Regions from separate parts of the Homo sapiens genome. Here region 2 is linked to region 1. Evidence: fine-mapped expression QTL. A gene starts in region 1. The other region holds a variant in brackets. All regions are shown on one strand. Distances are between the middles of the regions.

Evidence for each region. PIP is the estimated chance that this variant, and not a neighbour inherited with it, causes the effect.
Region 2: its variant is fine-mapped to the expression of SMIM23 in lung (GTEx, PIP 0.93).

Annotation. Positions count from the first base shown.
Region 1 is chr5:171,778,400-171,794,259 of GRCh38, forward strand. It overlaps SMIM23 (small integral membrane protein 23), which reads left to right and starts at 7,418. Exons shown (of 4, transcript NM_001289970.2): 1 at 7,418-7,577; 2 at 11,831-11,882; 3 at 12,083-12,150; 4 at 12,396-12,737. The coding sequence starts at 7,473. The coding sequence ends at 12,689. LOC105377725 (a long non-coding RNA gene) reads right to left here. Exons shown (of 4, transcript XR_001742985.3): 4 at 15,653-15,860. RefSeq lists an enhancer at 2,398-3,597.
Region 2 is chr5:171,840,384-171,856,243 of GRCh38, forward strand. LOC107986476 (a long non-coding RNA gene) reads right to left here and starts at 7,735. Exons shown (of 3, transcript XR_007059052.1): 1 at 5,526-7,735; 2 at 5,123-5,311; 3 at 1-2,236. The variant A/G (reference allele first, on the strand shown) is at 7,321.

The sequences.
Region 1 (15,860 bases):
CCCCAGCATGATCCTATGAATCCTTATAAAAGGGAGATGGGAAAATTTCACACACACACACACACACACACACACACACACACACACACACACAGATAGAGACAGAGAGAAGAGGATAAGGCAATGTAACCATGGAGGCAGAGATGGGAGTGCTGTAGCCACAAGCTAAGGAATGCTGGCAGCCACAGATGCTGGAAGAGTTGAAGAATGGGTTCCCCCTGAGGGAGCACAGCCAGATGCATGCTTTGAGAGTTCAGCCCAGTGCTACTGACTTTAGACTTATGGTTTCCAGAACTACAAAAAATTAATTTCTGTCGTTTCAAACCATCCAGTTTGTAATAATTCATTATAGAAGCCATAGTAACTAACACAGACACCAAGAGAATTTAGAATTCTTTCATGGCATTGGAATCCCACCACGCAGGGTATACATTTACCCCAGTATTCCTTTCTGGTTCAGTGTCTGCCTGTGGTATGCCCCTGCCCATGGTCCCAACGGCTATTCTTCTCCCTGGAGTTTCAGCCTTCCCATCAAATTCAGGAGGTCCCTCTCTCCTCTCCAAGACTGGCCGTTTCCAATTTTAGTTAGCCATAGGGGCTTCTGTGGCTCGCCATAGCAGGTAGCAAGCTCCACAGAGCAGGGCTGTTTCGAGGATTAGGGACAAGCCTCGTTTGAGCACAGCAGACACACAATAAGAGAGTTCACAAATTGATGGCGTACGTTGGGCTCACAAAGTGAATTTTTTTCTAAGTTGAATTTGTTGCCAACATTTACAAGCCAGGAGGTTTCATACAAAAGACTGAATTTCTTACTTCTCTTGAAAATAAATCAGAAGTTCTCACCACACTGAACCCCACATTCTCATGCAACAATTGGCTGGCCTTTCTGGACACACGTGTTATGATTTTGCCATGGTCCCCACCATGCCCTTTCGTTTCACACCCAGACTACTTCTCTCATTTTATTAACTGTTCAGTACCTGTATGCATCTGAGTTTGCAATGTTTGTTATAAATACAAGTCTTTATTCTGTAGACTAAAGGCAGGCACCAGACCCAGGCTAGGACTGGGTTCTGGTTTCAGGCCCAGGTTGTGAGGTCTTTTCCCATAATTCTCAGTCTCCCCAGACATCCTTTCTTCTCCCCTCCAGCTAGCCAAAAACACCTCCTCCTTTATGAAGCCATCCAGTCCTCTTCCTTCCATAGTCCCCACCCACTCCTGTACAGGCTTGCCAATTATGTCATCTCTATCAGTTTTCTGGATAGACTTTTCATATAAACTCTTTGCAATCTTACATTACTGGGAGAATTAAATTGAATTGGCATGGGGGCAGCCCATCAAATACTTGGAGAAGTGAGGAGGAGAAAAGGAGGCAGGAGTGGGAATGAAGCGAGGAAGGCAGGGAGAGAGGGAGAGAGGAGAGGAAGGAGAGAGGGAGGGAGGGAGGAAAAGAAGGAGAGAGAGAGGGAGAAGGGGGGAAGAGAGAGAAACTACCTGAGGTTCCAGTTTGAGCCAGGCACTATCCAGTTAGTTCATCTCGTTTAGCGCTCCCAGTAACCCCGTAAGACACATATTATTATTATTGGCCTCACTTTTCAGATAACTGAGACTTAGAGACATGATGTCACTTTCCCAAGTGAATGTTACAATGATACCAGGATTTGAACCCAGGTGTGTTTGGGAGACAGGACTCAAGCACAAAGCACTGCTTGGTCTCCACTTATTAGGTTTGGGGCAGATTTCTCCCTTGGCAGAGTGTAATTTTTCAAGACTGATTAGTTATTCCCCTGGAAATCTTTATTCATTCACACATTTCCATTCATTCCCTGCCCCCGCCAACTCATTCTCACATTGACTTGCTCCCTAATTCCCTCCTTCAAAGGCCTCTCTCTCCTTTCTCATCCTCTCCCTCTTCCTTTACTAGGAAGTGTGAAGCACCCAGTGCTGTACTAGACCCTCTGCCAGTCCCCCGCCCACACCAGCTACTGGGCCAGTTCTCTGAGGGCCAGGTGGGGAAGCTCTTCCTCCCTCTCCTCCCTGCCCTGAGACCAAATCCTGGAAGCTCTGCCTTCCGAAGGAGTTTCCTGGAAGAATTTATTATGTTTCCTAGAAAAATGTGACTGTAATTCATTACTTTTTTTGTGTGTGACTGTAATTTTTTTTACTGTAATTCATTACTTTTTGTGACCATAATTCATTACTTTTGATGTGCCATAATTAGCTTAATGAGCAGTCCTTACGTACCTGCATTTGACATTTCAAATGTGTCCACCAGATAAAGCCCAAGAGCCAGCAACTGCATGGGTGCCTGCAAGACCATCAAGATGATGCAAATGGCCTTTGGAGGGCCCTCAAGTGGGAGGCAAGAGACTTGAGTTCGGTACCTTTCCTTGGACTGTCTTGGGTTGGACTCTTTCTTTCTCTGGTCTTGAATCTTCCCAGGGAAGGAGCAGTATCCAACGGCCACCAAGAGCCAGGGTGCTGTCACAAGAATGGTAGAGTCCAAATCTCAGCCCTGCCTCTTACCAGCTGAGTAACTTTGGAAAAGTGTTCAGTCTAAGCTTCAGTCTCCCCATCTGTAAAATGGAGACAAAAATATGATTTACTACCTAGAGTTGTAATATTTATATGGTGAACCAATGCATGTAAAGCACTTTGCACAATGCCCAGTACTTAGAAAACTCTCAAAATATCTTAGTTGCACATGGTAATGATACAGGAGTTAAGAAGAAACTAATTAGTCAGATAGTGAGGGTGCAGAAGTCCTCGGTAAGGTTTTCCTTTTAATGAAAAGCAGCCCCCAATTATTTTCCTTTCTGACAAAGAACAGCCTGTAAAATCGAGCTGCAGACATAGATGCTGCAGTTGTGCCAATCATGTTCAAGATGGCGGCTCCGTCTTCCCTTCTCTCTGTCTGCCACATGTATACTAAGGAGCAGACAAGACAGCCCCGGCTAAGGGGAAAGTTCATTTGCATAATAAGATTAGGGTGGGGCAGCTAGCCTTCCCCAGCTATGTAACTGTCATACCTCATGGAACCAATCTGTGAGCCCCATGTAAATCAGACACCACCTCCGCAAGCCTAACTGTAAAATTCTGGTGCATCCACCACCGGCTGGTCTTTTCCTCTGAGAAGTGCCCCCCCCCGTCTCTAGAGCTGTTTTTCTTTCTCCCTTTTTGCCTATTTTGTGTGTCCGTGTCCTAAACTTACCTGGTATAAGACGACGAACCCTGGATATTTATCCCAGACAACGTAGCTGCTTTAGTAATAATAATAAAGATATGCAGAAAAGGCAAAAAGGAGTGGAGATTGCATGAAATGCCACACGCACCAATCTGGGATAGTCATGGAGTTGGAAGTGAGAGGTGAGGCCAGCTGGACTCCCTGGGTCGAGTGGGGACTTCCAGAAATTTTCTGTCTAGCTAGAGGATTGTAAAAGCACCAATCAGCACTCTGTGTCTAGCTAAAGGATTGTAAATGCACCAATCAGCACTCTGTAAAAAATGCACAGTCAGTGCTCTGTGTCTAGTTAAAAGATGTAAATGGCCCAATCAGCACTCTGTAAAATGGACCAATCAGCAGGATGTGGGCGGGGACAAATAAGGGAATAAAAGCTGGCCTCTGCAGCCAGCAGTGGCAACCTGCTTAGGTACCTTTCTAGGTTGTGGAAGCTTTGTTGTTTCGCTCTTCACAGTAAATCTTGCTGCTGCTCACTCTTTCGGTCCACCACCTTCAAGAGCTGTAACACTCACCGTGAGGGTTTGCAGCTTCATTCTTGAAGTCAGCGAGACGGTGAAGCCACTAAAGGAACAAACTCTGGACACAGAAGGACAGGAGGGAAGATGGTTATGTTGGATATTCAAAAAGTCTAATGGAAATCTCACATCTACTTACGGACAGTGAAGCCACAAAAGACAAGAATGGCCACTTTCTTTGTTTTTAGCTGAAACTACATTAACTCCTTGTGGTAAACGAGAAGACGTTGGAGTTAAATAGACCCATACTAAGGCAGGGTATGTGCCACTGGGTAAGGAGAGTAACGTTCCCAACAGAAACTAACAGTGCCGGCCTTGCCGGGCAGTTAGGAGAATTAGATGAAATAACGTGTGGAAGGGACTTACCCTGGGTCAGGCGCACAGTAGGTACTTCGTTCATGACACCCACTAATTCCGATACCCTTCCCTAGCCACCCCGGACCTCGGCTTCTTCAAAACGTAAAAATCATACCACCTGCTTTACTCATTCGGCAAATATTTACTGAGCCAAGTACTGTGAATACAAAAATGTATTCACCAGACAAAGTTCCTGGCCTCTCAGAGCCTGCAGTTTGAGACCGTTCATTATTCATCCTTTCAACAGGTATTTTTACTGAACATTTACTATGTAACGGGCTGCGTAAGGGGCATCAGAAATGCAATGTTTAGTAAGACAGATTTAATTCCCCACTACCCACAGAATTAATAGCCTAGAGAAGCTGTAGTAAAGTAATCTAGTGAAATGCCTAGTGTATAGCCGGCCTCCGTATGTAAGTTATCTGGGTGCCAGTCAGAGCTCTGTATGTGGAACTTTGGTAAAGTTAATTCACAAAATGTGGAACATTGATGATTTCTTAACACATGAAATTTGTTTGGCACATGGGGGCTTTTAAAGTATAAGGAAAGTCCAAAGAATATGAAATATTTAGGTATATACCTAACAAAACATGTACAAAAGCTATATGCCAAAAATTACAAAGTGCTGGTTAAAAAACAAATGAAACGGAAGACCTAAATAAATGAAGAAGCATACTGTGTTCCTGGGATAGAAGACACCACATAGTAAATATGATAATTCTCCCCAAAGTGATTCATAGGTGTGATGCAATTCCTATCACAATCCCAGCTGGCAAAGTATTTTGTTATGAAGTTTATATGGAAAGGCATAAGCCCTGTGAGAGCTGAAACAATCTTGACAAAGAAAAACAAAGTGGGAAAAATCACTCTACTTGCTATTAAGGCTCACCGTAAAGCTACAGCAGTCAAGACAGTGTGGTATTGATGCAGGGACAGATACATAGATCAATGAAACAGAATACAGAACAAATGGTCCTGGAGCAACTGGACATCCATAAGCAAAAAAATTAACCTTAAACTCCACACTTTATACAAAAATTGATTCCAAATGAATCATGGGCTGAAATGTGAAGCGTAAAGCTATACAACCAAAAAAACAAAAATAGGAGAAAATCTTCGGAACCTAGGGCTAGGTGAAGAGTTCTTAGACTTGCCATGAAAGAGCACAATTCATAAAAGAAAAAGTGATAGACTGGATCAAAACATAAAACATTTTATCTGCAAAAGTCCATGTGATGAAGTTGAAAAGATAAGCCACAGACTGGGAGAAAATAATTTGCAAACCATATATCCTAAGAAGGACTAGTATCTAAAATGAGCAAAGAACTGTCTCAAAACTCAACTGTAGCAAAACCAATCCAATTAGTAAATGGGCAAAAGACAGGAACAAATGTTCCACTGAGGAAGGGGTGCAGATGGCAAATAAGCTAATATGAAAAGACGTTCGGGCAGGGCATGGTGGCTCACACCGGTAATCGCAGCACTTTGGGAGCCCGAGGTGGGAGGATTGCTTGAGCCCAGAAGTTCAAGACCAGCCTGGGAAACATAGCAAGACACTGTCTCCAGCAAAATAATAAAAAATTGCTTAATAAAATTTAAAAAAAAGAAAAGATGTTAAACATCATTAGCTATCAGGGAAATACACATTAAAACCACAATGAGATGTTACTAAACACCTGTCAAAATGGTTAAATTAAAAAATAGTGAAAACAGCCGGGTGCAGTGGCTCACGCCTGTAATCCCAGCACTTTGGGAGGCCGAGGCAAGCGGATCACAAGGTCAGGAGATCAAGACCATCCTGGCTAACACGGTGAAATCCCATCTCTACTAAAAATACAAAAAATTAGCCGGGTGTGGTGGCGGGTGCCTGTAGTCCCAGATACTCGGGAGGCAGAGGCAGGAGGATGGCGTGAACCCGGGAGGCAGAGCTTGCAGTGAGCCGAGATCGTGCCACTGCACTCCAGCTTGGGCGACAGAGTGAGACTCTGTCTCAAAAAAAAAAAGAACAAATAGTGTAAACAGATATTGGTGGGGATGAGGAGAAACCAAATCACTCATACACTGTTAATGAGAATGTACAATGGCACAGCCATTCTGGAAAACAGTTTGACAATTTCTTATAAAACTATCATGCCATGATGCTATGGCCCAGCAACTGCACTCTCAGGCATTTATCCCAGACAAATGAAACTTACGTTTACCCAAAAACATGTACAAGCATGTTCATATCACCTTTACTCGCAAGAGTCAAAAACTGGAGGCAGCTGGGTTTTGAACAGGTTTGGAACGTGTCCTTCATTATGGCATACACATATCACAAAATACTACACAGCAGTCAAAAAGAATGAACTACTGATACATGCAACAAATTGGATGAATTTCCAGGGAATTATACTATGTTTTTTTTTAAAGCCAATCCCCAAAGGTTAAATACTGTTTCATTCCATTTATGTAGCATTTGGAATAAACAAATTTTAGAAAGAGAGAGCAGATGAGTGATTTCCAGGAGTTAAGGACAGTGTGGGTGGGGTCGGGAGGCAGCAGCCATCACGAAGCAGCACAAAGCCCCTTGTAGTTTTGAAACTCTTCTGTGTCTTGACTATTGTCCTAAGTAAGCAAACCTACACAAAATTGTTTAGAATTAAACACACACACACACACACACAAATGAGAACAAGTAACACTGGGGAAGTCTGCGTAAGATTGGTAGAGTGTATCAATGTCCACATCCAGGCTGTGATCTCCTACTGCAGTGAGGCAGGATATTACTGTACCACTGGGGGAAAAATTCATAGAGGGTACACAGGATCTCTCTGTATTGTTTCTTACAACTGCATGTGAATCCACAATTATCTCCATACATTTTTCAATTAAAAATAGCTTTTATTGTTTTTTTTTTTTTTGTAATTTTTTAAAAATAGAGACATGGTCTCACCATGTTGCCCAGGCTAGTCTCAAACTTCTGGACTCAAGCAATCCTCCAGCCTCAGCCTCCCAAAGTGCTAGGGATTACAGGTGTGAGCCACTGCACCCAAACTATTGTTTTTATATTTTAGAATTAGCATTTTTATTAAAAACTTGCAAATATAGAAGAAAATAATCAGAAAAATCATCATCCTGAAACATAATCTTTTGATGCATTTCTTCCTGATCTTTGTTTTCTACACTCATGTGAAAAATAAAAATGAGGGAAGGGACTAAAAATCAGGGTGGTGGAAAGGTGGGAACCTTGCTGTCCCTACCTTCTGTGACATCAGAACTCAATGTTTGCAGGATGCCTGGTGACCACAGGTGGGGGAGGGGAAGGGTGCCCTTCTGTCTGTTGAGTGTGGTCCACCCAGGCAGCCAGATCTGAGGCCATGGCAACCCAGCAAGTGGACAGCAGAAGGCAGGTGGCAGCAGAGCAGGTGGCAGCCCAGCTGCTTGAACGGAGAAGGGGCAGCCACTGTGATGACGAGAAGCAGGTGAGGCCAGGCCAGGTACATGCTGCTTTCCTCCCATCTGGGCTCCTTTTGCCACTCCAGACAGACTAGAAGTCCCTCAAAGCCCGGAATGAATCTTGGACCCAACCGTCCCTGGATCCCACTCTGATGGAGCACAGTTTAGGGGCCTAGGCACTTCTTGCCGGGGCCATCACTGACACTGTCTTATTAAATTCTCAGCACTGCCAGCAGAAGGTATGTTCCAGGAGGACTGGGCTTTTTGTTTAGTTCCCTGCTGAATCCCTAGTGCCTAGCATGGTGCTTGGTGCCAAGTAGATGCTGAATGAACGAATGAACTGATAATACTCCTGAATTGGAGCGCTCCTGGAGGATTCATTCTCAGGGCTGAAATTCAAAACTCATGTGGGATTTCGTCAAAATGGAAAACATTAATGCTTGCTGCACACAGCCTGGTGCATCCACACCCCATCTCTTAGATGCTATCAACCTCGTTCACAGAGGGTAATCTGAGGCCCAGAAAGGCAAAAGGGCCGTACAACTGGGACATATCAGGATTTGAAAACACATCCATCTGATTTTAGAACTCCCTGAAACCAGGTTCATCTGCTATGAGAACCCTGAGCAAGGGTTTATTCTGAGGATAAGAAGAAGCTGTTGACGGGTTTTAAGCAGAGCAATGAATGAATGAGCTCTGCTGTCTCTGTTTTCAAAAGACTTGTTCACTCATTAATTTACTATACATGCACCGAGCGCCTTCTATATGCTGGACCTTGTAGCGTATAACAGGGGCCTTCATGGGCACCCATCATGCTGCGGCTTTTCCTAAAAAGTGTTCCATAGACACCAGACCCCAGGAATGCTCCTTTTAGAAACATTCTTTACAGAATTCTGTGGCTTGGGGAAGGCTGCATACCCGCATCCCCTCCTGAAGACTGACGCTGCTCATTCACGTAAGGAAGGCTCTGAGAAGTCCTGCAACAAAGAAGTCTGCATAGCTTTGTTTACCACAGCATTTCCCACCTTGATTCTACCAGAGTCCCATTGTTTCCTTTTTTTTTTTTTTTTTTTTTTTTTTTTTTTTCTGAGACGGAGCCTCGCTCTGTCACCAGGCTGGAGTACAACAGTGCGATCTTGGCTCACTGCAACCTCCTCCTCCTGGGTTCAAGTGATTCTACTGCCTCAGCCTCCCGAGCAGCTGGGACTACAGGCGCCCGCCACCACACCCAGTTAATTTTTGTATTTTTAGTAGAGACAGGGTTTCGCCATATTGGCCAGGCTGGTCTCGAACTCCTGACCTCATGATCCACCCGCCTCCGCCTCCCAAAGTGCTGGGATTACAGGTGTGAGCCACTTCTTCTTTTTTGAAAGACTTTGCAGTGTATTTCAAAATCCATTTTACAGATGAAGAAACTGAGGCTCAGAGAAATTATTTGGCTCAGGCCCCAAGACGACACAAGGAAAAGGACTCAAACTCAATCCTAGTCCATGTTCCTCCCTTTGCCTCCATGCAGCACAGTATGGAAACCAGCAGCAAGAATGCCGGGGAAGAAATCAACCTGTAAAATACATTGATAGAGGACTGGTTAGACACATAGAAGAGCTTCCAGGCCACGAAAACTCATCAGCCATTTTAAAGATTGTGACAATTAGTGTGTGTCTTCCATGAAAAGATTCCTAAAGAATATTGTTAAGAAAAGAAAAAGGACCCTAATATTACATGTACAGTGTGATGATTTTGCATTGGGTGTACACACAGATCAAACTATGGAACATTTCTAGCACTGAGGGAGGCTCTTTTGGGGCTCCGCCCACCTGGCATCCCACCCTTCATAGCAGTGATTCTGATTTGTGTCATCATAGCTGAGTTTTCTATGTTCTTGAATTTCATGTAAATGGAATCATACCATGTATACCTTTGTGTCTGACTTCTTTCTCTTATCATTGTGTCTGTGAAACTCAACCAGTTGTTGCTATGTAACATTTTTTTTTTAAGTTAATAGTAATGTAGTTGCTAGTATTATAAAGAAAATTATCTGGGGAAGAGGCAAGTTAGACACATCTTTCATCTTCCTTGTTTAGTACTGGGTCTAAATGTCACTTCACATACTTGGGTGTGTAAGAAATTTATTCTTTCTTTAAGGCAAACTAGATCTGACTCAGCCAACATCTAGTGAGTTTGGGGAAAATTCAATGTCAGTCAATATGCACACACACACAAACACACACACACACACACACACACATATTTGAAAAACAAGAAAACTTTAAAAGCCATGGTCAAAATTTCCACATTAGCAGAAAAAGAAGAATTAAACTCAATAGTATAAAGAAATAAATAATAAAGACAAAATCAGAAATTAATGAAATGTAAAGCAGACAAACAATAAAATTAATAACCATTTTTAATTGGTAAAATTAAATTAAGAATTGGAAAACTTCTAAATAGACTCAACAAAAAACATACATAGAAAGAAAACACAAGTTACCAATATCAAGAATGAAAGAGGTCTCTTGTTTCCTCTCTTGACCTCTTTTCTTTATATATATTTTTTAAAAAGAATAAAAGAGGATTATTATCATGACTCTTACAGGCATTAAAAGAATATTAAGGTAATATTAGGAACAATTTGATGCCAATACATTTAACTTAGGTGAAATGGACAAATCTTCCTTGGCAGTACAACTTACAAAATTGACTCAAGAAGAAATAGTCTTAATAACTACAGGCCCAAAAGTTTTCACCAATAAATTTTATCAATCCTTTGAGATGAAAATAATACCAATCTTACACAAATTATTTCATAAAATAGAGGAGGAGGGAGTTCTTACCAACTCATTTTAAGGGGGCAACAAAATCTTGATACCAAAACTTGACAAACGTGTAGAAAAAAAAATTTTTTTTGAGACAGATTCTTGCTCTGTCACCCAGACTGGAGTGCAGTGGCGCAATCTTGGCTCACTGCAACCTCCGCCTCCCAGGCTCAAGCGATGCTCCTGCCTCAGCCTCCCGAGTAGCTGGAATTACAGGCACCGGCCACCATGGCCAGCTAATTTTTGCATTTTTAGTAGAGACGGGGTTTCGCCATGTTGGCCAGGCTGGTTTCGAACTCTTGACCTCAGGTGATCACCACGGCCTCCCAAAGTGTTAGGATTACAGGCGTGCGCCACCGCGCCTGGCCTAGAAACAATTTTAAACCAATCTCTTCTGAATATAGAGGTAAGAAATCTCAACAAAATAGTAGCTTATCAAATCACATGATATATAAAAAGGCTAGCTAATGCATCATGAACAACTAGAGTTTACTGAAGAAGCTCATTTGGCTCAATATTTAAAACACAATTAATGCAATTTACCACAAAAATGGGGACACATATAGTTGCTCAGTGGGTAAAGAAAAGTCATTGGTGGTTTCTTATAAAATTAAACATACATTTACCATATAACCCAGCATTTGCATTTCTGAATATTAACCCAAGAGAAATGTGAACATATGTTCACATAAGGAATTGTATATGAGTGTTCATAGCACTTTTATTCATAATAGCCCCAAACTGGAAACAAGCCAAAAGTCCATCAACAGGTAAAGAGACTGATTGTGCAATATTCTATGTTCATATAAAATAAATACTCATCAATAAAATACACAATATACTCATCAATAAAATTGAGCACAAAAAAATAGAGGCATTTCGAAAACATTGTCTTAAGCAAAAGAAACTAAATGCAAAAGCACACACACTGTGTAATTCCACTTATACAAGGTTATGGAACAGGCAAAACTACTCACAGTGACAGAAAACAGATTAATGGTTCTCTCCAGGCAGGGCAGGAGTGAGGATGGAATTGACTGCAAAAGGAAACTTTCTAAGATGACGGAAATGCTCTACATCTTGATTGGGGTGATAGTCTACAGGTATAGACATTCATCAATACTCATCAGACTCATCAGACTATACATTTTAAATGTGTGCGTTTTATTATATGTAAATTATACCACAATGAAGTTGATTCCTTTTCAAGATCAATTAAAATGAAAAATGTTTACATGAGAGAAAATGCAAATTGAACATCAGTAAGTTGCAGTGTTATCTATTTCTTCAAAGTTTGGGAGTTTTGTAGTAAGTAAGTGTGACTTAGATAACTAGAACAAAAGTTAAACTCAAAAAACTGTCTTATAAGCATTCCCATGTCTGGCCCTTTGTGATGGAAGCAGGGGGACCTGGAGAGAATTCATCCTCATGTTCTTCCTCCTCTTCCTCTTCTTGCACCCTAGACGCTGTTGGCATTGCTGATCTTGGTGCTGTACTTGAGCACAGAGATATGGGGTGAGCATTCTGGAATCTGAGAAAGAAGGAACCAAATCCACATGAAGCTTGGTGGAGTGTTCCAAAGATGGTTGTATGTTAAGGGGACCTCCATAACCCACCTTCTCCCACTGACCCTTCATCACACTGGGATAACTAACCATGTTTATTTCAATTAGTGCTCATTTGCTCTTCAGAGGTGATGTTTGTGCCTGTTTCAGGAAGCAGTTGGGAGGTGTCAGAAAGGATCAGAGAATGTAACTACTACCAGAATCTTGCAGTTCCCCAGGTAACATGTCCAGCAAGGTACTGAGGTGAGGCAATCTGGGAAGGCTTTCCAGAGGAGGTGTCATTGGCAACATGGGTCATGAAAGATAAGTAGTCGCTTGTCAAGTGCAGAAGGTGGGAACAGGTACTACGAGCACAATGAGTAGCATGTGCAAAGGCCCAGGGATCTTTTTGAAACCAGTGGGGATGGGGAGGAGGGTCCTATCTGAGAAAGCACAGGATGCCACTTCTGTGTCTGCCTTCCAGGGGCTTGAATATCAGACCAACGAGCCCTCAGAAGAACCGATAAAGACCATCAGGAACTGGCTGAAGGAGAAGTTGCATGTCTTCTCGGAGAAGTTAGAGGAAGAGGTGCAGCAGCTGGAGCAGCTAGCGTGGGACCTGGAACTGTGGCTGGATGCTCTTCTGGGAGAGCCACACCAGGAGGAGCACTGCTCCACATATAAAAGTCACTTGTGGGAGTGGGCCTGGGCCCTGGGGAGAGAGCACAAAGGTGGGGAGGGGTTGCTAGAGATTTCTCTAAGCGGGGCAGAGCTCTGACTCTTGAAGTTCCAGTCAGGCAAGAAAATAAAGTAGTTGGGAAATGAAGTCCGCTGTTCACATTCATGAATGCTGACAGAAACAGCGTTGGCGGAACACCAGAGCCCGGCTGAGATATTCTCCCTGGCACCATGACGTGGCCCCCTGGAACAAACACGGGCTTCAGAGCCAGCCATAGGTTCAGGACTCTTCTACTTTCTTGAGACGTTGTGTAAATTTCCTTAACCTGAGACTCAGTTTCCTCACATATAAAAATCGGGGAAACACACTTTGCCTTATAGGAAGACAATGTATGTAGGGTGTGTATACAGAGTGCGTCTGGCACAGAGCAGGTATCGGATAAATAGCTCTTCCTTTCTCACATGCCTTTTCCTTCCTCCCTGGAGTGTGGTAAGAGGATACTAGCTCTGGCTAAGTGTGTGGCTATTATGCGGCATTCAACCCTCTGACTCTGCTGGTGGAAGTATACGTTCCTAAAATCTCTATTTGGTGATAGCTATCAAATTTACAAATGCATTTTCTCTTTGACCCAACAATCTGCTTCAAGGAATTTATCCCACAGCTGCATTTGCCCACACATGAAATTACATGTGTATAAGATTATTCACCCCAGCTTTATTTGCAGTAGCAAAAAAATGGAAGCAACCCAAATGATACCAGGAGGGCTCTGGTTATATAAGTTATGGTACAGCCAGACAATGAACAATCATGTAGCTATAAAAGAGAATGAGGAAGCTTTCTACTATGGTGTGAATATGGGTGACCCCCAAAATGCATATATTGGAACCTAATACTCAATGTGACAGTGTTAAGAGCTGGAGCCTTTCGGAGGTGATTAGGTCATGAGGATTCTCCCCTCATTAGTGAGATTAGTGCCATTATATTAATAATAGAGGCTTGAGGAGCCTGTTTGCCCCTTCCACCATGTGAGGACACAGCTAGAAGTTCCCTTTTATGAGGAATAAGTGCTCACCAGACACTGAATCTGCTGGTGCCTTGATCTTGGACTTCCAAGCCTCCAGAACTGTGAGTAATAAATGTCTATATTTACAAATTATGCAGTCTAAGGTATTTTAACTGCCCACATGGACTGATACTTTCCTTCTGCTAAAATGGGAAAGCCTGAAAGATATGTAGTTAAGTGAAAAAAATTAAGGTATAGGCCAGGCACAGTGGCTCACACCTGTAATCCCAGCACTTTGGGAGTCCAAGACAGGCGAATCACTTGAGGTCAGGAGTTCGAGACCAGCCTGGCCAACATGGTGAAACCCCGTCTCTACCAAAATTACAAAAAATTAGCCCAGCATGGTGGCATGCACCTGTAATCCCAATTACTAGGGAGGCTGAGGCAGGAGAATTGCTTGAACCCAGGAGGCAGGGGCTGCAATGAGCTGAGATTGTGCCACTGCATTCCAGCCTAGGTGACAGAGTGAGACTCCGTCTCAAAAAAAAAAAAAAAATTAAGGTGCAAAAAGGGAGCAGAAGATAAAAATATATATTTTGTTGTTGATATTGATGATGATAATGACGTTATTAAATATGCATAAAAACTCTAGAAGGATACAAGCCTGCCTGGGAGTGAGGGGATTTGAAACTGGGAGATGTGTAACAAGGATGGGAGGAAACTTTTCAGCATATATTTTTCATACTTTCTTGTTTTCAAACTATGTGAATGTTTTGCTTATTCAAATATTTTTTAAAAACAAATTTCTATTTTGCATGCAGACAAGAACTGGAATATATGTATATAAGCAAAAATAACAGTATCATTATGATGAAATTATGATTGAATTAATTTTTAAAAACAGTCCCAAAAGAAAACCCTTCTCTTTTGATTACTTTATTTTGATTAAACAATGATCATTTTTTATCTAGGACTTCCCCTTTTTCCTATTACCTCCAGGAAACTTATAGTTGTTTGTTACTGGAATTTTATCAGCCTCATTGTTTTGGGTTATTTATTTTCCCCTTTCTATGACTTTTTTGTTTTCTATTCTGATGGAGCTATTATACATGTACCAATTATTAGAACCACCTCAAATCTTTGGATAGTGATGAGGGTTTCAATTACACTAATCTCAGAGGACATCTGACTTACAGGGGATGGCACAGCAATTTGTTTGCCAGGAGGGATTAATCAATTGCCATTTGGGATGGAAAAAGTCTTTGCAAATTATGATCCCAATTTTCCACTTTGAATATTTGGCAGGAGGTTGGGACCAGAATCTATTTTTTCACATTTCCAGCTATTTCACCAAGAGTTCTACGGGAAAGGTCTGATTGATATTTGCTTGCATTTATAGTTACATATTGCCATAGAGTAGTTATGTATGTTTATATTATATTTATATATTATATATACTTATATGTTTATATTGTATATGATACATTTATAAATATATTCATAAAATATATATTTTATATATGTATACAAAATTGGGGGATACATTTTAAAAAAAAAGAAAATGAGGCCAGGCGCAGTGGCTCCCACCTGTAATCCCAACACTTTGGGAGGCCAAGGTGGGCAGATGACTTGAGGTCAGAAGTTCGAGACCAGCCTGGCCAACATGGTGAAACCCCATCTCTACTAAAAATACAAAAAATAGCCAGGCATCATAGCACATGCCTATAGTCCCAGCTACTTGGGAGGCTGAGGCAGGAGACTCTCTTGAACCTGGGAGGCAGAGGTTGCAGTGAGCTGAGATCTTGCCATTGCACTCCAGCCTCGGTGACAGAGTGAGACTCTGCCTCAAAAAAAAAAGAAAAGAAAAGAAAAGAAAATGGAGCTTAGACCTTTGAGGAGTTAAACCACCTCTGCGGGTATTAGAACCTTTGAGAGGAGCTAGCTATTTGGAACCTCCCCTGTCCCCCCCCAGTGCTGGTGTGGGCCCCCAACCCATTGATGGTGGCTACTTTTGGTGTGTTGGCTTGTGAGCCCATAAAGAACAGGGAGTCACTTGGGATAACTCAGGCAATAAGGGTTTATTGTGGTGCTACAAAGGAGCCAGAATCTCCCCCCAAATCCAGGGACATACCAGGACCTGGGATTGTGGAGACTGGAATAGGGAGGTCTTTGAAAGTTCAGGGTGGCTCCAGCGCCCAGCTGCAGGAATTCTGGAGCTTTCCCCTAGCACGCCACCTTTACGTTGCCGTTCTCCAGTGTTGGATTCC
Region 2 (15,860 bases), 62 kb after region 1:
AACAGCAGGTGTCCACTTTCCCCTGCCTCTAATCTTCCCCCACCTCTCAAGCCATTCTCTACTGAGCTGCCTGGGAGCTCTTCCTTTTTTTTTCCTTCTTTTTTTTGTTTTGTTTTCGTTTTCTTTGTTGTTGTTTTAGAGATGGAATCTCACTCTGTCACCCAGGCTGGAGTGCAGTGGTGCCATCTCGGCTCTCTGCAACCTCTGCCTCCTGGGATCAAGCGATTCTCCCTCCTTAGCCTCCCGAGTAGCTGGCATTACGGGCACCCACAATCATGCCTGGCTAATTCTTGTATTTTTGTAGAGACGGGGTTTCGCCATGTTGGCCAGGCTAGTCTTGAACTCCTGACCTCAGGTGATCCACCAGCCTTGGCCTCCCAAAGTGCTGAAATTACAGGCGTGAGCCACTGCACCCCGCTGAGAGCTCTTTCTTCATTTAAAATCGGACTACCCAAGCCACTCCTTCAAGAAAGGATCAGAGTCTGGCCCTGCCGGCCTCTCCTCCACTTCCCCTCTCAGGAAACCTCCACCCCTTGCCACTCTTGGCACGTGACAGGCACTTTCAGCTGTTGGGGCATCTTGCTGTGGCCTCCTCTACCTCTAAAACTTCTCTACTTCCTCCTCAAGGCCCACGTCCAACATCACTCTCTCTGGGAACCCTTCCCTTTTGAGGCATAGCCGCCTCGTTTCCAAAGTAGACCTGGATACCATGACGATAAAAAGCTGGACACACTGCCTCGGTGCAGATCTGCTGGCTGTGTGATCTTGGGTAAGTTACTTACATCTCTGTTCCTCCATCTGCTTAGTACCTAGTCCCCAGGGCTGTTGAGAGAAACAAATGATTAATACATGAAAAGCACTTAGAACCGTGTCTGGTACATGGAAAATGCCTAGTAAGCGTTAGCTGTTATTACCTCATGTTTGAACACACCTCTGCTGGGAATTATCTGTTGGCCCATCTGTTTCCCTTATCAAGTCTGCACGCTCCTCTAAAGGAGGGCATCTTCGCCAGCTCAGGCTGCTGTAACAAAATACCAGAAACCGGGTGGCTTATAAATAATAGAAATGTATTTCTCACAGTTCTGGAGGCTGGAAGTCTGAAATCACGGTGCCAGCATGATCAGGTTCTGGTGAGGGCCCTCTTCTGGGTTAAGGCTGACTTCTTCTTGTGTCCTCACATGGTGGAAAGAGAGCCAGGGAGCTCTTTTCAGTCTCTTTTTTAAGGGCACTAATCCCATTCACAAGGGATCCACCTTCAAGACCTACTTACCTCCCAAAGACCCCACCTCCAAATACCATCACTTTGGGAATTAGATTTCAACACGGGAATTTGGCCGGGGACACAAGGCTCAGTCCATGGCAGAAAGAGAGCTTATTCATCACACTGGCTGCATGGTACTTAGGAGGTATGAGGTGTGCTGTATCCCCAGCACAGAGAAGGTGCTCAGAATTTCATAGCTTTCAATAAGTGAATGAGTGAGTGAGCGATTAAGCGAGTGAGTGAATGAACATAGAGGAAGAGTCTTGGACAACAGATGGAACAACCTTCTCCCTTGATCTGCGCAAACCTCCACCTGTCCCTGAAACAGCCCTCAACCCTGAGCCAACCCCACCCCTTTCTCCTCGAAACCATCTTCCTCTTAGTCCCTCCTCCTACTTCATTCAGCCGACATTCAAGTGCAAACCACCGGGAAAACCCAAAGAACGTTCATGGGATAAATCACCCAATTACTAATCAGGTCCATCCGTCCACCATTAACCACTATTTTCCCTGCAAAAAGTAAACACGCCTCCTCCCCACAGCCTGACACGAGGGCCATTAAACCCAGGAAGGGCGTGTCTCCACAGCAGCCCAGAAACAACTTGAAAGTGGAAAAATACGGTGGACTCGGTGATTCAGTGGTCGTTCAGATATAGCCAAAATGTTTGGTTTCAGCCTTGACGGAAGCCATTGCCCTCCTATTTCGTCTCCTCTAAGATCGGAGAGTGTGGACTTTGATAAGACGTCCTTCTCAGGTCCGACAGCTTTGTGCTTTCCCGGATGAGCTTGTCAAGCACTTGAGTTTCTTTCAGACTTGGCTCCTGCCCTGGGCTAGGCATGGGGGTGCCCAGAGATTCTGGCGCAAGGCAGGTGAATCTGAACAGTGCTCCCCAAAGGAAGCCGAGGTGGTGCTTCAGAAACCAGGGAGCGCAGCCCCCATACTTGGGCGACACATTTGGCTCTGGCTTCTGGCAGCTAAGGCAGAAAGAGAAGCACATGGGGTTGCATAGTTTTCATTTTCCAACAACAGAAAGCATGTTCAGACCTCGGCAGAGACAACATTTTTCCTGGAACCAGGCTCTAGAAGGAATGTATCGGGGCCCTGCGGGGTTAAGAGCACCAGGTGACAGAGCAGATGAGTCCTGCCCCTGTCCCTGCATTCGTTCGTTCATTCATTCAAGCAACCAACACCTGTTGAACCCTCATGCTGTGTCTGGCCTCACCTGGGGCCACAGAGAATGCCTGACACAGTCCCTGCTACTCAAGGTTTCCAATTCTCCCCCTCTACCTTCAGCCCCACACCCCCACTCCTCAGTTGATCACACCCATCCTCCCATCAGGAGCAACCATGACAGCAGTGTTACCCCAAGTGCTGGATTAGACTTCCTCCCTCATTTCTGGAATGTAACCATCTGGAGAGGAGATGGGGGCCGGGAGCTGCCTAGGTCCCCTCCTGCCCCCAGCAGCCAGCCTCCCACTTCCTCTTTGCTAACAGAACCCCAAGTGTTAGCAGGTGCCCTAGGGGATGCACGCTTGATCTAAGAAAGCCAGGCACTCCCATTCCCCTTCATTGACTGATCCTTTCCCTTTCCTTATAGCTAGAGATGGTCATGTAATCCAGTTCTGGTCAAAGACACGCCTGGACTCTGCAGAACCTCTGTTCTTCTTAGTAAATGAGGAGCCCCTACTTTCTGCCTCGAACACAGCGTCCGAAGACATGATGATCCAAGCTGTGGTAGCCTCTTGACTGTGAGGGGATATGTCTGGACTCTTCAAGGAAATACATTGAGGACAGCAGAATAAAGAGAAAGAGAGAGTTTGATGCTAACTTCAAGTCATTGGACCAACCTGGGATTGACTGCCGGCCTGCAGATATCTAGTATAAGATGTTGGCTGTGTGCCATGGCCCATGCCTGTAATCCCAGCACTTTGGGTTGGGAGACCGAGGCAGGTGGATCACGAGGTCAAGAGATCGAGACCATCCTGGCCAACAAGGTGAAACCCTGTCTCTACTAAAATACAAAATATTAGCCAAGCATGGTCACGTGGGCCTGTAGTCCCAGCTACTCGGGAAGCTGAGGCAGAGGAATCGCTTGAACCCAGGAGGCGGAGGTTGCAGTGAGCCGAGATCACAGCACTGCACTCCAGCCTGGCAACAGAGCAAGACTCTGTTTAAAAAAAAAAGATGTCTTGATTGTATAGGCCTCTGTTAGCTGGTTAATCCTATTTGCTTACAGCAGAATGCATCCCAATGAATACAACAGGTATACGTGCAATGAAAGAGAGTTCAGTCCTAGGGAGACTGCAAGGGGGAAAAAGTAGGCTCTGGGGTAAAATAATTAAATAATTCTTCCTTTCATGGTGGTCATGAAATGGTAGCTAACATTTATTTGCTTTGTGTTTTTTTTTTTTTCTTTGTGAAGCACCTGTCTGCTATTGGTGCTATATGTTTTTGAAAATTCATTTTTACCTCTCCAAGCCCATTTCCTCACTGGATTCATGGAAAGATGAAGGAGAGACTGCATGTGAAAAGGGTGGACATACTTTCTGTCTGGCTGGCTGCCTGTCTTGTTCACTGCACTTTCCCAGCACTAGATAAAGTTTTTTTTATTTTGTTGTTTTATTTTTAGAGACAGGGTCCCACCATGTCATCAAGGTTGGAGTGCAGTGGCACAATCACAGCTCACTGTAACCTCAAATTCCTGGGCTTAAGTGATCCTCTCGCCTCAGCCACCTGTGTGGCTGAGACTACAGGGACACACTACCACTCCAGGCTATTTTTTAAAATTTTTTGTCAAGACAAGATCTCGATATGTTACCCCAGCTGGTCTCTAACTCCTGGCTTCAAGCAATCCCTCCCACCTCAGCCTCTCAAAGCACTGGGATTACAGGCATGAGCCATCCCTAGTTAAAATTTGGTAAAGAATAAAGCTCTTTCCCTCCGGCTTATAAAATCAGGACTCAGTAGTTATTGCCAAATGTGCCCCATTGGTTAATTTGGATCTTTCCCCATTCCTTGCATGTCCATTGGCCATTCGGGCTTCATTCCTAGAATATATATTTTTTGGGGGAGATGGGGTGGTGGGGATGGAGTGTTGGTCTGTCACCCAAGCTGGAGTGCAGTGGTGTGATCTCGGCTGACTGCAACCTCCGCCCCCTGGGTTCAAGCAATTCTCCTGCCTCAGCCTCCCAAATAGCTGGGACTACAGGTGCCCACCACCACGCCCGGCTCATTTTCGTGTTTTTAGAAGAGACGGGGTTTCACCATGTTGGCCAGGCTGGTCTCAAACTCCTGACCTCAGGTGATCTGCCTGCCTCGGCCACCACACCCGGCCCACTCTTAGAATATTTAATGAAGATTATCTTGATAAATGTTATCAAAACATTCAATTGACAAACACCAAATCAGTGTTTTTATTTATTTATTTATTTTTTGCTTGTTCCAAAGTACTTTCTGTATATATGATTGCACTGCCTAAGTGTTGTTCTCTCTTTGCATATGAGAAAACGAAAGCTTAGAGAGGTCAACTGACTTTCCCAAGGTCATTTGCTGATAATAGAATCAAAGGACAAGAGGCCAGGCTCTCTTGTGCTGAGCCCTGGCCTGGCTCCCCACTGCCTTGGGGTGGTGGGGTAGGGCCTAGTGGGGAGGTGATGCTGAAGGTGGTGTGGGTGATGGATGGCAGTGCCGCAGGGCTCTTCTTTAAGGAGGCCCACCCCTGCCTTTCACTTCCTGCTCCAGCTCCACATGCCCTGTCATTTAAGCCTCAGCACTTTGAGAGGCCTCGAAGGCCGACCCCGTGACTCCCCCAGAAATGCCTGTGCTTCCTTCCCTGTCATCTCAATGCAGAGAGCGCTCACCTCAGCAAGTTCAGACTGTGCAGGCTCGGGAGGACCTTCCGCTCAGCCAGGAGCATGGCTGGTTTGTCTCTGGATCCTCAGCACGCAGCGGGCAGCCCAGAGCTGGGCAGGGCGTTGCTGCTCCATGCGCTCTGCACTGACTTGATGACGTAGAGAGAGAGAAGGCCGCCTGTTTCCCAGGTGGAGAAACTGCATGGGGAGAACATTTTTTTCTTAGACACCTGGGGAATGAAGCGTTAACTAAGGTGATACAACTTGGAGTCCGGGAAAGGGGATTTGGGCAGAGGCTGTGGAGGGGCCTGTGGGGTGGAGAAGGCTGCAATGATCCCAGGTCCCCAGGAAAGAGTGGATCCACCTGTGTGCAGACTTTCCCCACCCTAGGAAAACAGGATGCAGGCCTTACCTCCTGTCTTTGAGCCAAAAGGAGGGAGAGCCACCACCTGAGTGTCCCATATGAGACTGCTTTGCCCCAGGAAGGGGGAAAATCCTATGTCACTGCCAAGAAGGTCCAGCTAGCTTCAGTAGAGAAATCATGACATCCAGTGGACATATGTGTCATCCCCAGGCTCAGGCAATGGCCTCCAGCCAGGAGGCCTTCTAGGGCTGGGCCAACAAGGCACTGTGGAGTGAGCGCTGGGAGGCTGAGTCTGAATCCTGATTTTGCCTCTTAGCTACGTGACTTGGGTAAGTCTCTTCCCCTCGCTGGGGCTCTGTTTCCTCCACTGAAGTGGAGAGTGTCTAAAAGCATGTTTGTGAACTGTGATGCAAATAGGTTCTCCCATGATCAGAAGCTGTGTTTCTTGCTAGGAGTAGTTTCAAGGCAGTGCTACCTAGGAGAGGGAGGGCAAGCTTGAATGATGAAGCACGTAACCATCTCCCCGGGCACTCCTGCACAAATGGCTCGCAGCTGCTCCCAACCCTACAGGCTGTTGCCAGGATAAGATGAGACCTCTTGTGGGTGCACAGGCAACGGCACTCCTGAAATATGGGGATGCAGATGTTCCCACCCTGGGACACAGGATGAAAGCGCTGGGTGTCAGCGCCTGTGAAAACCTGCAGAGGGCCTCAAGGGATCCGCATTTCCTGAGCGGGGCTCCTGCAGACCTCCCACTACATCCAGGCTGACATCTCACGGGGCTCCAGGGCCAGCACCAGACAGAGGTCAAGGCCACCGTTTGGTAGAGCAGTCATCAGACCCAGGGAGCCAGGCTGGAGAGAAGGGGCAGAGCCAGAAGAGAGCCCCCCATCCCCCGCATCCCACCTCCACCACCCAGAGAGGGAGGAGGAAACCTGAATTACAAACCCAAATCAGAGCTTAAATCCCTGAGTTCCAGCCAGAAGAGAACTGGATTAAGCAGCCTGTGGTGAGGCACATGGAGTGGGTGGGAAACCAGAGTTAACTGCGTTCTGGACACAAAGTTGCATTTTTGCACACCTGAGTTTGTGACTGAGAAATAAATATTCTCTGTTTAAGCAAAGCATCTGGACATAGTAGGCCCTCAGGAGAGCGTGCCTGCCTTTCTGTTTCCTTTCTGTCCATGAAATGAGCTCCAGATGGTGCAGAACCCCGTAGGTCCACCTCCCACTCCCAGCAGGTCTGCATGTGAGAAGGTGCTGAGCCATTCATCCAGTTCACCTTGATTTCCCAGAAGAAAAGGAATGTGTGTGACCCCTCTGAGGTGAGCCCAGTCTGGGCATGAGACTAGTTCTCAACATGAACAATAACTTTGTTGTGCACCTACTATGTGCTGAGCACTTTACAGGCAGCGTCTCATCCCCCAGCAAACCTGAAGGGAAGTGTCATCCCCCACACTGACTTTACCCCCTTTGAGGGGGTGTAATGTTCTTTCAAGCTGCATACGCTTAGGAAGTTGAGGCACTGGAGTTTGAGCCTGGTTTCTGGCCACTTTCTCCCAATAAGGACTCTGGGCTTAGCCATATTCACTGAACCCTGGCTGTGTGCAGGACCTCATGTTGCCACTTCACAGTAAAACAGGAAAAGTTAACATTTACTCAACAAGTCTTGCATGCCAGACACAGGCTCTGTGCTTTCTATACATTCTTTTATTTATTCCTCACAAAATTCCTGTGATCTCCTCTTTCCTCCCATCTTGCAGATGAGGACCCTGAGGCTCATGGAAGTTACAGAACTCACCTGGGGCCAGTCAACCACTCAGCAGCAGGGCCGGGTCTGCCCC[A/G]GGTCTGTGTAGTGTCAACGTCCTCACTCTTGGCCACTCTGTGATTCTAGGAGAGAAGCCATGCTGTAAAAGATTCCAGGTCATGCCTTGACAGGTTACAGTGACCACATCCAGGAGATCTTTAAGGCCTTAATTGTGCCCTTCAGTTCCTGTCATCATCATTATCATTATCTCCACCACCACCATCATCATCATCTACATGCCTGAAACTGGCGTATTCTTATGCCATGAACTGTAAAATATTTCATTTATTTTCCCTACTTTAACCAGCCTTGTGACCTTGTTCAAGTAACCCCACCTCTCTAAGCCTCAGTGTTCTCATGCATGAAATGGGGCCTGTAAATTCCATTTGCAAAAGGACAGTGAGCTGTTGTTTTCATCCCCAATCCCTCTCCTCCCTGAACTCCCTCCCTGAACTCCCTCTCCTTCCTCCGTGAAGTGCCCTCCGCCCCCAGGGCCTGGATTCCGGCCACCAGCTCTCCTGCCCCGGCTTTTAACGTTGGTCCCTGCAACAGGCCAGAACATCTGCCTGTGAACGCCATGGAACTCTGCCCCTGCGCTGGGGTCCTGCCAGCAAAGAGTTTAAACAAACAGAACTGGGCAGAAACGAGATGGTCCGCCGGTTGTAAAGGGTCGCACCTCATGCGCACACGCTCGGGTTTCATGATAATCCGAGTGATGGTTCTCCTGAGGAGGATTAGGAAGAAAACGTTAGGGGGCTCTGCGGGGAGCAAGAAAAAGTGGTTGTGTACCCAAGACAAACACTGCCAAGAAAGTGGCCTTTGCTGACCAATAAACCAAAGTGTGGGAGGGGGTGGGATTGGGGTACTGGAGGAAAGGAAAATTTGGGGCTCTGTCCAACTCTTCTAGTGCCTAAGTCAGACCTTCACCAGCAGAAGACCGTTCCACTGAATGTGTGGAGAGAGATTACAGCAACCCCAAACCACTGTGGTCAGAGGCTGGCGGGAGCTCCTGCATGTGGGGGAGGAGCAGCAAGCCCATGTGCCCTCCAGAGCCAGGCAGGTAAGCCAGGAGGGGCGCAAGGGACACCGCAGAGCACACACAGTGAGCCACAGCAAATGACACCGGCCTCAGCACTGGGAAGGTATTAGGGAGTGGTGGGGACTGCATCCAGCTGGAGGAACACACCCCACCCAAAGCAGGCACCTGGGACTGAGCTGCAGCTCCAGCCGGTCTCTGCCAGGCAGGAATGTAGGCCCAGTGGTGCCAATCTTCTCTGATTTTTTTTTTTTCAAGAGAAGCAGAAAAGAACAAATTTTGTTTTTTGATGTGCAGGTTCTCAATTTTTAAACATTGGCAATGAGTTCAAATGGGTTTTGAAATACTATGTGGGCCAAGCAAAATATATCTGTTAGCCAGATTTGACTCACAGGCCACTGGTTTGCAATTTTCTGAAGTTTTGGTACCGTAATAAAAGCAATGGGTCCTGCCTGGATTCAAACACCAGTTCTCCCATCTGCTGGCTGGGCAACCTTGGGCAAGTCCTCTAGCCTCTCCAGGCCTCAGTTGCTCCATCTGTAAAATGGGGATAATAGTAGTGTCTACTTGATATGATATTTGAGAAAACTTCATGAAATCATGTCATGGAAATTCCTTGATATCTCTCTCTCTCTCTGGAAATGTTAGCTTTATTACTAATGCACCCTCTGCAGGCTCCCTGGGGGGATGGAAGATAAAAACAGCGGCAACGGGCAAAAACGGAGGTGAGGAAAATGGACCAAGCAGGCAGAACAGAGCCAAACCAGAAAACGCCGGCCAAGCTTTCCCTTACTTGCTGTGTCAGAATGGCCCTTCAGGGATGATTGGCACAAGCTGACATCAAATTGACAAGAAAAGATTGGGCAGTGGCCTGAAGAGTGGCCCTCCAGTATCTGTCCACCTCTTTCCAAAATAGCAACAGGCGACCTTGGGAGACCTTTTGGATTGCAGCAGGAAGAAAGTCAGTTACAGAGGGTGTCCTAGAGGAGGTAAAAGGATGCCTCCGGTCTGTGGCTCAGCCACTGCCCCACTCTGTGACTTCAGCCAAGTCATTTCATCTGCCTCTGAGACTCCACTTACCCATCTGTAAAATAGGTTGACAACAGCTGCCTCTCAGGATGCTGGTGGTGATTAGCGATCACGCAGTATAGGTAGGGTCTGGTACAGAATTCATGTTCGACAAGTGGGAGCTGCCGTTATTGGCTGTCGTTTAGTTATTTTTATGAATGAGGCAATAGAGGTGCTTGTCTGACCAGCATCCGCTGACCTCTCTTCAAGTAACTGCCCCGTTTGCCTCTAAAGAACCATTCCTCTCCTGTTCCCCACCAAATGGTTCCGTTGGTGTTGGCTCCTCCCCAGGCTCCAGGGACAGGCGTGTGAACCCGGCACAGCTAATGAGAATAGCGTAGTATCCCAGGCCAATGGGAATCAGATCCAGGACTTGCATTCAAACCATGAGGGAAGAGAAGCTTTCCCTTTCCACCAGATCTGTTCTAGTGAGGAGTAGGCCGGAGCTGCTGGCAGCTTTCTCACTGCCACATGGGAAGAGCCTGTCTGAGAATGATATCAATAATGAGGAAATCAGAGCAAAGATTTGGAAAAATTCTTGTTTCTTGATAACACTGCTTAAGCACCTGGATCCAGCTGTGCCTAAAGTTAGCACTGTGTCGGACTCTTCAGTTACCACAGCCAAAAAATTCATTTTCTGGCTTAGACCATTTTGGATTGGGTTTTCTGTAACTTGCAACCAAGAAACTCAACAGATATACGAGCCTTAAGGATGAGTTACGAAAACACCCCAGGGGAGAGTTTCATTAGCTGGCACGTCTTATAGGCTCTCAGACCATGCTTTGAGCATGATAGCACTACTTCCTTCTTCCAAGAGTATGATAAAAATCCTTCCAAGAGTATTCCAAAAGCCTTGCACAGACTTTGGGTAATCTTCTCTTAAAGCAGTGGTTCTCAATGGGAGAGGGATTTTGTCCCCTAGAGGACACTTGGCAATGTCTGCCTACATTTTGGGTTGTCACAATGGGGAGGCAGGAGGGATGATACGTGCTACTGACATCTAGTGGGTAGAAGCCAGGGATGCCGCCAAATATCCTACAAGGCACAGGACAGACCCCACAAACAATGATCCCATCCAAATGTCAGTCGTGCTGAGGTTGAGAAACCCAGGAGAAGTGATACATCATCCCGTGTTCTACTCCTACCAGCCCCACCATACTTAAAGACGAAAACCAGGCCACTTAATGGGAGTATGGGAACTTTATATACCTCATGATGTTTTCTTAGGGTATGCAATGCTGTGATTCAAGCCCAGTTGAAAGAAAGACATTGCCCAAAGTTTACACACAGATATGCCTAATCCCCTCTGGGGTCTGCAGCCTCCCTGCTATCACCATAACAATCACAGCCCATAACTACTGGACGAACAGGAAGAGCAGGAAACCTCTCTGAAGATGGACAGTCTAACACATGCCTGCTCTCCCACACCCAGCAATAATGGATCCGACAAATAAGCAAATTATACGAATCCCACATAGCCAATAAAGGGGGAAGACAGCATTTCCTCTCTGTCTAGAGGACCATTTCTCAGTGTACTGCTCCTCAGAACACTAGTCCTGTGAGATACTCAAAGGGGAAAAAATAATGATTTCAAGGTCAAAAAGGTGTGGGAAACACGAAAGCCCCTGTTACCTTTGTGGATGGTAACAACATCCATGAACACATGAAAGGCTCTGATAAGTCCCTCAGCAAATAAACCTGCTTCCTTTTCTTTAACTTGCTATTTCCCAAACTCACTTGATCTCAGAATCCCTTTGCACTATAATACTTAATTAATATTCCACTGAACTATTGTCCCACAGGACACACATTGGGAAACATTGCAAGGGAACTACAAAGAAAATGAAATATAAGATATTAATGAGATGTAATAGCTGATCCAGGGAAACCAGGTGACGGTGGAAAGAGACCAACCGCTTTGGCAGGAGAACTGTGCCTTAAACTTCTCAGTATTGCTCATCCCAACCTCCCTGGGGCACCCACTTATTTATGGCTACTCCAAGAAAAGTATCCTGAGGGCCAACCAAGTGCCAGGCATTGGGCTACCTACTGGGATTTAAAGATAAGTCATGGGCTGGCCGTGGTGGCTCGTGCCTGTAATCCCAGCGTTTTGGGAGGCTGAGGCAGGAGGATGCTTTAGGCCAGGAGTTCAAGATCAGCTTGGGCAACACAGCGAGACCCCTTTCTCTACAAAAAATTAAAATATTAAAATTAAAAATAAAAAGAGATAAGTCAGACTCCAGTAGACACTGCGGTAATGAGTAGGAGTCAGAGACCTGGCTGCAGAGCTGATGATGTTGCTCTGTGAATCCAATGCCTTCCTGCTGAGCCCTCTCACTTCCAGGAGCCATGAAACACGGGCGCATTTGTCCCTTGGATCTCAGTCAGTTATACTGACCTTGTCAAAGCTTAGCAAGGAGCTGGGGTGGATGGGGAGGAGCAGAGCCTCCTGGCGGAGTTTGGGTCCTGATCTGTGAGTGATGGTGTCAGCCACACCTGAGTGCCCTCCTAAGGGAAACCATCCCATCAGGAGGCCCAGGGGGAGGGAAATGGCTTTAGGCTGCGCTTGAACAAGGAATGCCCCCTGATTGGTCAAAAGGGTCCCCTGAACTCAAGAGCAGCGCATCCATTGGCTGCTTGGTGACCTATGAGGACGCTGGAACAAAAAGCCCCACCCAGGAGTTTCAAGTCATGGAGCTGATCAGGCTCTGTCCCTTTGGATTTAAATAGGAAGAGACTGAGTGAATCAGCAAATTGGTGGCGGAGGAGAAGTTGCTCAAGAAACCAAAAGCTGACACTGGAGTGATGCAGCGAAGTTTTTGTGAACTCCGGCTACGGAGGGATCTGAGAGCTAAAAGCCTGCCCAAATTCCTGACCTCGTGGCACAACCAGGGCAGACCCCAGGCAGGTGGCCCACGGCCCTGGCTCTTATTCCGTGAGTCAGCACGGGAAACTTGGGGTTCGGCTGCTCCTCGAAGAGCCAGTGCCAGCTCAGCCTGACTTCGCCCAGGGAAAGGCACCGTTTTGGAACCCCACAGTCACCAAAAGTGGGACCTCAGTAGTAATGACAGTCCTGTCCAAATGCTGCTGGGATGGGTCTGGGCTTCAGCAGGAAGCCCCTTCGCCTCTGAGGGCACCTGTGGAGTCTAGGACCATTTGAACATCCCAGTTCCTTTCTTCCCAGTTCCTTTCATCCCATGTCTGCCATCGTGACACATTCTGGCTGAGATCACACCCAGAGGGTTGACAAGGCTGTCCCAGAAATCATGTGGTGGGCACCGCAGAAGCACAACAATGAACCTTGTTCCTGGAAAAATAAGGCCACGTGCTGTATCCAGAAGTTCTAGACAGGGCTGAATGGGGTTTGGGAGGTGGGGGTCAAGATGAGGAAGGTAATCAAGGTTATGTACTTGCCTGGGTAATGAAATTATGCCACCAAGGCTTACAGAAAGGGGGCCAGGGTCAACTTTGCTTTCCTGAATTCTGCTCTCCAACCAATAGAGTTACAGAGGGGGCAGCAGCCACAGGACCACATCTTTGGATACTCATGGACACCAAGATGGCAGGAGTAGACACTGGGGATGGCTAGACGGGGGGAGGGAGGGGATACGTGTTGAAAAACCACCTATTGGGTATGAGCTCAGTACCTGGGTGATGGGATCAGTCGTACCCCAAACCTCACCATTATGCAATATGCCCAGGTAACAAATCTGCACATGTGCCCCCGAATCCAAACTAAAAATTGAAATTCTTGAAAAAAGGGAACCATGTTGTATACCCCTTGAATTTCACTTGCAGTTTTAGAACCTAAGTCTCAGTGACTGCTGTCTCAGGGCATGAGGGTGAGAGCCAGTTTGGTGAGGCCACCAGTGGGTCCCACAGGCAGCAGAGGCCCAGAACTCCTCTACAGCTTTCCAGGAACCATGCATCTATCAGCAAGACTTGGGTTCAAATCCCACTGGGTTCACTGAGCCCCCATGTCCTGCTATACAGGCTCTTCCATTTAGTTATGTGTATGATCACAGTTGTTCTCCCCACAACAAAGCTTCCTCACACATAGTAAAGCTATGACAAAGGCTACATAGTAAAGCAGAACGGGGCCGGGCATGGTGGCTCATGCCTGTAATCCCAGCACTTTGGGAGGCCAAGGTGGGTGGATCACTTGAGGTCAGGAGTTCAAGGCCAGCCTGACCAACATGGTGAAACCTGGTCTCTACTAAAAATACACAGTTAGCTGGGCATGGTGGTGCACACCTATAATCCCAGCTACTTGGGAGGCTGAGGCAGGAGAATCGCTTGAACCTGGGAGGCGGAGTTTGCAGTGAGCCAAGATGGTGCCACTGCACTCCAGCCTGGACAACAAAAGTGAAACTCCATCTCAAAAAAAAAAAAAAAAAAAAAAGCGAATGGAATGAAACTTGCAGGCAATTTAAAATTTAGGATTTACCCTTTTCTTGTCTCCCTCTTCCTTCTCACTTCCCTATCCCTCCCAATAGTTAGTTTAAAAGCAGAATCATTTGCATGACTGAGTGCTTGCATGTAGACTTTTCTCTTTTTGCCCTTGGCCAGCTTGATGGTACTCAAACTCTCAATGGGTGCAGGAATCACTGCACTGGGTCCCATCCATACACACTGTGTACTGTATTGAAGCCACATTTTAAGGGTTTTTCAAGCATCTTGGACTCTATGGTTTTCCACCTGCAGTGCTCACTTTAGAATCTGAGCATCATGAAAGGGGAAACTCCACTGCATGCCCAAAGTTCTGGAATCCAGGAGTTTGTTCATTCAACACATCTGCGTTATTAGTACCTGCGACTGGGGCTGAAGACACAGAGAGGACCAAAACATGGGTCCTGGCATGGAAGAAATCAAAAGTCCTCCATAAACCCTGGCTGGGCTCACTTCATCTCACTGAATGCTCCGAGCAGGTCCGGGAGGGAGGACTGATTAGAAAGGAGCCGCGCCCTGTCCTTGGTCACCTTACCCCTGAAGAGCGTCGATGAGATTCAAACCCAAACTTTTCTGACCCCAAAGGCAGACTATTTTGACCCTTTCTGCTCGTGCACATTAAAAGCTAAAATACCAAAGAGAAAGTGAAAACGGCTCAAAAAGAGTTCAGGGGCTGAGGGCTTTTAGCTCCTGCTCTGTGGACCAGGGAGGAGGTGATATTTGAGCTAGGCCTTGACGAACATGCAAAAGTAGTCATTTCCCACAGGAAAAGGCGTGCCTAGTGGCAGCAGCAGGGGACACTGGCCAGCCTCCATTCCCCTTTTTGCTTGGACCCCAGAATCCTAATCCTCTGGGGATCTGCCTCCCTTCCATTCTCAGCCCGTGTGGTTTGTGTGGGGTCGACCCCAACCCTGACCACCAGGGATTATTTCCGTGGGTTTTAAGGGTGGGCACATGATTCTACCTGAGCCAAGGACACTTAGTCCCATGACTCTTTGGGGCTGCTGGGAAGAGATTTTGCTCCACCACAGATGCTCAAAGGATAGGACATGCTCTTGCGGCTGCTGGGAAGAGATTTTGCTCCACCAGAGACACTCAAAGGATAGGACATGCTCTTGGGGCTGCTGGCAGCCACCTGGATACCATGTGGAAGCAAGCCTGCTTTAGAATGAAACTGTGAGAAAGGAGAGCCAGACAGAGAGGCAAGGAGGTGAGGCCCAAGAGCTGATGACACAGTTGGAGCTCCTAGATCCAGCCATGCCTGCGACCAGCCCATTCCTTGGGTATGTGTGACACAAGCCAATAAACGCCCTTCTTTGCAGAAGCCAGTTGAATGGGACTTCTAGCCCTGGATCAATAGAGTGAGCAGAGTGGAGGGCTGGGAATACTGGTCTGAGAGGAGGAAGCAGCTGAGACTACATGGGTCATTGCTATTCAGTTGGGACTGCAGAAATCAAAATTATTTTTTAACCTCTTATTTATCACCTCTTATTGAACGTAATTTACAGAGGGGTTGGTCAGAAGCCAGGATAATAGAATTGTATGTGCCTTAGCAGATCTACTGTGGCTCATATTCTCATTTTGACGAGGAAACTGGGGCTCAAAGAGTCAAAGGATGTTACCCAACGTGTTGCAGACAGCAAGTCACCCTACTGAGAGCAGGATGCTAGAGAACAGCCCCGGGATAAGCCAGCTGGGATGTAGGGAGTGGGGGAGGACCTAGATATTGGGCTGAGGAGAAGGAAGTAGTGGGGAAGGCACCTGGCAAGATGCCTGGGCCGGGCAGGCGGCATGGATGGCCAGCCTCAGCGTCAGAAGGAGCAAGGTTCAGATCCTGGCTCTGCTGTTTTACTAGCGGAGCAATCTTGAAAGCCACTTCCTGTCTATGCCTCAATGCAATTGTTTATAAAATGTGGGCTCAGTTCTTCGTTTAACTACAATTTCTTGAGCTCTGTGATTACCACTTCCCAAAATGGTCTCTGAACAAGACAAACAAGGTCCTGGTACTTCAGGTGACATTTCTG